2 separate regions of the Homo sapiens genome follow, and region 1 is linked to region 2. The links come from fine-mapping of genetic effects on gene expression. A gene starts in region 2. The other region holds a variant in brackets. All regions are shown on one strand. Distances are between the middles of the regions.

Region 1 (2,914 bases), 74 kb after region 2:
CCTTGCCCCTCCTCAGCTTCAAAGCTGAATCACTGTGAAGATATGGTGTTTCCACACTGATACATTTATTTCACTTCATTTATCTGAGGATTAAAGTGAGCTGCAGAAAGGTATCATTTATTAAAGTGGAAAATAGAATAAATGTCGTTGCCAGAGTATCCCTTATTTCAAGCACATTTTCAGTGTCAGACTTTCTCATCCAAACTTGTTTCCCAAGCACAGCGTTCCTCCGTGTAATTAATATCACATGCTTATAGCTCAGCTGCAAAGCATTCTTGGCTATTTTGATAACATGAAACCTGGCAGTTACCCGTTGTGATTTACACATAGTTGCAGTTGGAGATTTTTCTAAAATTACAATAAAATTTCTTTGAGGGGAAATCTGTTTTAAGGACTGGATTGGGGAAAGAAAATAAAAAATAGAAGCGAACAACTAAGTATGTCTATTCTCCAAAGTGCATATAAGTCTATCAAGGCAACACACTGGCCTTTGATCAGAGCCACTTTACAAGGCAGGTGATTTATGGACAGCCAGGCCATCCCCTGCAGTGAAGCCTGGGGCTCGAATGCTTAGGGACAGGCATGTGCTATTTTTAAAATAAAAAGACTATAACTTCACTGCTGTTTCCAAACCTATTGGATTATTTTACTGCTATGCTTTATTTCCTTCTTCACTGGTAATGTTGGTCATCTAAGATGAAACAGAAGTAATATTTTCCATGTTCGCAAGTCTGACAAATTTTAGTTTACAAAATTCCTTTCTCTGCAGGTGGAGATTTGACACTGTACCTGAGTGGGTATAGGATTTAATTGTTACCAGAGCCAAATCCAAAGCAGGAAGAATCCTGTCTTAAAATCCTGAAGCACAGGTGTTCTAAGTGGCCTCAGTCTTTGCATCCCATATAGAAGCAGCTGGCAGTCACAGCGGCTGCTCTCAGGGGACTCCCCCAGAAGTCTGGCCAGTGCAGGGCTGGGTCGGGGGGGTATTGCAGCAGCCCTGGACCATTTGACAGACAGGATTCTGACATTTGGGCCACTGTGTTACCAGCTAATTGAGGGACCAGAAGTTATGAAATTGCATGATTTCACTTTGACCTTTTCTCCATTACTCACTGGAAATCACACACATTGAATGTCGGTGGTTCCAGGGTTCTTGAAGAAGGTCTGTGTCTCCAATGAAACCCTCACTTCTCTGGGAGGGAATTCCCACTGAGTCTCCCTTATAAGTAGGCATGGTGGGTATGTCTTGCATTTGCCTGATCAGTATCTCATCCTTTGTGGACCTTTTAGGAAAGATCAATGTGGAAATCAATGAGTCTCCTATTCATATTCTGGGATGGGAACAGGAATAGCAGCCCAGGGCGAGCTGTGGTGAAACAGCCAATCAAGTTATTGTCAGTGGTCCCCTGGGATCATGTGCCTGTTATGGAAGAAGCAACGGAGCCAGGGAAGAAATGGACATCATCTAGAGGTTTGGACTTGGGAAGTGCAACTCCATTGCCTTTAGTTGCAATAGCTGGAGGAGACTTCAGGTTATTTTCCACTGTAGAAAGGGTGGGTCTCCACTGTGAAGTTGTATTTATG[C/G]AAATAAGGAAGTATGTATGCACTGGGTGAGAAGAAGGGTAGGAGGGCTATTATAACCCTTGCTTTTTATGGGTTATGGCCCTGCATCCCTTCTTTGAGTTGCCAGCCTGCTCTTCGTGGTTTGGTGCAAGGCTTCCCACAACCCAGCCCTGACTATAGGGGTGAACTTAAGACTAAGAGCACTCGGAATCTTTTTCCCTAGACATTGAATCTTGACCATAGATACACAGTGATGGATGGTGACTGCAGTTGTGACCTTCAATGGCAATGTTTAAACAGAAGGTCCATGAACTCCTGCTGCTGATATCTCTGGAACCAGAGCAGCCCTGGACCCTTTATATCTCAAGGCCGATGTGTTATAGGACCAACAGGTTCATATGCCCACTGTGTAGTAACAGGCCAATGCACTGAGACAGCCAGGAGGCAGCAGAGAAAGAGTTTAATGATTGCAGGGCTCCTAGTGAGGAGATGGGAGAAGACCCTCAAATCCATCTCCCCGAGAGTTCTGAGTTGGGGTTTTAAAGGGGATCTTGGAGGATGAGGGGCTGGAAAATTGGGGTCATTGATTGGTCAGGGTGAGGAGGATGAAATTATCAGGATGTGGAGCCTGTGTGCTTTGGTGAGTCAGCTTCTTGGGGGGTCCTTCAGACCTGCTGATGTGGGTGGTTTTAGTGGCATGTAGGACGTGAAAGAATATCTCAAAGGAAAACAACATTTCATAAGGTTCTAGTTGTTATCTCTAGAGCAGATAAGGGGATCTATAATCTTGTAACAGGGTCTATCTGATTCTAAGACAACAGACAAACAACAACAAGGAAGTGCGTCAGAGAACAGGCCGACCTCATGATCCATGCTGCGTGTGCTGCAAGCTCATTTTAGTCTCATTTCTCTCCCTCCCTTCTTCCCTGATGAATAAAGTTTATTGGGATGGTTTCAGATGCTCAGCTTTTCCATATGATTAGGTGAGTGATCCAGAACCCTTCCAAAGAACCCTGTGGACTCAACCCTCTGTTTGAACAACATACAAGATAATATGAGACATTTATTTATCGAGGACCCTCTGAGCACCTGGCACTGTGCCAGATTCTTTCAGATATATAAAATTTCACTTGCTCCTGTTGATTCTGGAAAGGAGCAACGGCATCTTATGAAGCTGTAGCAGATACTGTCCTGGCCTCGCTCATGTGTGTCAGATGTGTTGGAGTGCCCTGGCTGCTGCTCTGCATGTGTAGCTGAGGTCCTGCTGGAAAAATACCACCGGAGCTCTCTGCAGCTGGAGTGGAATAATTCTGAAGTGTGTGTTTTGCCTCCTTTCCCAGTGTCTCCCCAT
Region 2 (2,914 bases):
GCTGGTGGAAGTGTTGTAGCATGTTCATGTATTATAATTAGTGTATAATGAGCAGTGAGGGCACTAGAGGTCACTTTGGTCACCATCCTGGTTTTAGCTGGCTTGGGCCTGTTTCTTTAGGGCAGTTTTGGCCGTTTTTTTAGGGCATCCTGTTCTGACCAGATCCTGTTTTGCTCAGCAGGTGGTGATCAGTGCTTGGAAAGTCCTGCTGATCTCCTACCTCAACTATAACTGTGCAAATACTTTTCAGGGGGATAATGGAAATGTTCTTAAATTATAGTGATGGTTGCAAATGGTTTTAAAATTACTGAAAATGATTGAATGGTACACTTCAAATGAGTGAATTTTATGGCATGTAAAGAAATGTTTTTTAAAAACACAGCTAAAAAATTAGGAGACAAAGAAGTATTAAGACTTTGTAATTTGGGGAAACACTTGTGATAAATGACAGCGACTATGTGGTTTTGTGGAATGTATTTCCTTGTATGTACCGTGACAGAAAAGAGGGCAGGTGCCAACTGCACTGGGCTTGGGGAAGATTCATTCATTTAAGAAATTTTTTTTTTTCTGAGCATTATTCATACACAAGAGGTTCACGGTTAAAACAAAAATTTACAAAAAGCAACCCTTTCTTCACCTGGGAGCTTATAGCGCAGTGAGGAGACACAGATACATCCATAGCTCGTGAGGTGACCGGGGAAGGACAGGAAGAGCGGGGAGGTGATCAGGGGAGGCCTCGCTGTGAAAACCACGCGCCCTGTCGACCCCGAGGAGACGCGGCCCACGCTGGGAGGGAGCAGCCAGGACAAAAGCCGGTCGTCGTGGGGTCCCGCCTGGTGAGTGGGGGTGAGGACAGCGAAGTGTGGGCTGCCCTGGGCTTCCAGGGAAAGGAGCCAGATGGAGAGGGGAGATGTGGGGGACCGATCGCGTGCAACAGCCTAGGCCACTGCCGGCCGCTGGCTGTGGCAATGAGCGCGGAGCCTTTGGAAGATCCAGGGGACAGGCTTCCACAGCATCCACGTGGCTGCGGCGTCGCCGACAAGGCCCAGGCGGGGGCAAGATGGTACGAAGCGACCATTTAAGTGATTGTTACAATCATCCCCGCAAAGATAACAGGGGGCTTGACCCCATGTAGAAGTGTGCGAAGCGGCTGGTTTCTGTCAGCGTTTGACCTTAACGGGAGTAACGAATCGACTATGGGTGTGAGGAAGACTGGTCAGAGCTGATCGCGCCTCGGAATGGAGTGGTGGCTGGGATGCGGAAAGGCCCCGAGTGGAGCAATCCTGGGTGAGGCGGAAACGGGGGCTGACTTTCCAGCCGTCCGCGTGCTACTGAGGCGGCGGCCACCCTGGCACCTTCCCCTAGCTCCGCTAGTCCGCGCGTACAGCCCTGGGATGTGGCGGGCTGGGAGACCCACGCTCCCGGCGTGCTCTGCGGCCCGGCCCGCGCACCCGGGGGGCGTGGCCTGCGCGCGCGTGCGTCGTAGCCGAACGCTGTGGCGGGGCAGGCGAGGCGGTCGCTTCGAGCGCGCTAGTCAGCTCCCTGAAGGGAGTGACGGCGGTTGGGTGCCCGCGGCCACTTTTGCCTTCCCGGGTAAGTGCGGCGGTGGCGGTTGGCGCCGCCGGCTGACGGGCGGCTTCCTGGGAGACGGGGAGAGCACCCGGCAGGCCCGCCTGAGACGTTTGAGGCTCGCGGGCGTCACTCCTCAGGGGCGTCTGGTCCGAGCCGGGAGGCGTTCCGCTAAGTTCGGTGCCCGCGGGCACCAGCCGGTGGGGGCTTCGTCCGCTTTGCCGGGTAGGAGGGCGGAATGTGGGGTTGGTACGGGCGGGGAGAGCCGGACGGGGCCAACCTGGACCACGTCAGCCAGTCCCGGGTGACTGGCTCGAAGTAGCCTCGGAGTTGAGAGGGGTCGACCGGGGCAGCCCGCGGCGCAGCCCCGGCAGCGCGCATTTGCGGAGAGAACGGATCCCGTGCCCCGAGCGCCGCCGAGCCCCGCACGCCCGTGAGACCCGCTTTGAATTTTCTCTCCATGTTTGCTGGGGTTGTTGACCCGACCCCCCGTAAGACTCGGACTCAACGTTTTTGTTTGCCCCACGACAGCCAGCTTAATGCTGTGGACGTAACAGGGCACGAACGTTTGTAACTGAAAGTTGAAGGGGCTGTGGCGTCTCCGTCCCGTGGCGTGGGAGGTGATCGCCCAGCCCTTGTGAGTAGTTGTCGTCCTAGAACTCCGCCGACCGCCTAGCCGGTGGAGCCGGCGCTCCGGACGCCACTAGAGCTGGCGTTTCGTGGGCGCAGCACCTCTAGCCGGTCATCTTCACCATCGCCATTGAGGGCACTGAGGCCGGGCCAGGCTTCAAACCCTGCCCTCTCTGAACCTGAAGCCAGAGATGAAAACCCAGACGACAGTGGCCTGGCACGGTGGCTCACGCCTGACCCCAGCACCATGGGAGGCCGAGGCGGGTGGATCACCTGAGGTCAGGAGTTCAAAACCAGCCTGGCCAACATGGTGAAACCCCGTCTCTACTAAAATTAGCTGGGCGCGGTGGCGGACGCCTGTAATCTCAGCTACTCGGGAGGCTGAGGCTGGAGAATCTCTTGAACCCGGGAGGCAGAGGCTGCAGTGAGCCGAGATCGCGCCGCTGCACTCCTGCCTGGGGGACAGAGCAAGACTCTGTCTCAAAAAAACAAACCCAGATGACCTAGAGCAGGTTGCTTGGGGATTGCATTATGGGGCATTTTCCGTGTTTCTGAAGAAAACCAGCATGTGTGCAGCTGCCGTGAAGAACACACTGTGCATCGTGAAGTCTGAAAAGAAGTAAAGCAGACCGGGAGAGGTGGCAAACGCCTTGGGATCCCAACGGTTTGGGAGGCCAAGGCAGGGGGTATCGCTTGAGCCCGGGAGTTCAAGACC

Which allele goes with the higher level. Positions count from the first base shown, and alleles are read on the strand shown. Sizes are in standard deviations (SD) of each study's normalised expression.
As copies of G replace C in region 1, the expression in cerebellar hemisphere of the gene that starts at base 1,489 in region 2 goes up (small effect, 0.27 SD a copy in GTEx).

The links. PIP is the estimated chance that this variant, and not a neighbour inherited with it, causes the effect.
Region 1: its variant is fine-mapped to the expression of TEX30 in cerebellar hemisphere (GTEx, PIP 0.95).

Annotation. Positions count from the first base shown.
Region 1 is chr13:102,697,873-102,700,786 of GRCh38, reverse strand. It overlaps a transcript of METTL21C not described here. Among named protein-coding and RNA genes, the nearest start is that of METTL21C, 4.3 kb to the right of the region's middle. The variant C/G (reference allele first, on the strand shown) is at 1,585.
Region 2 is chr13:102,772,361-102,775,274 of GRCh38, reverse strand. TEX30 (testis expressed 30) reads left to right here and starts at 1,489. Exons shown (of 6, transcript NM_138779.5): 1 at 1,489-1,593. RefSeq lists enhancers at 379-1,056, 1,057-1,734 and a silencer at 1,317-1,656.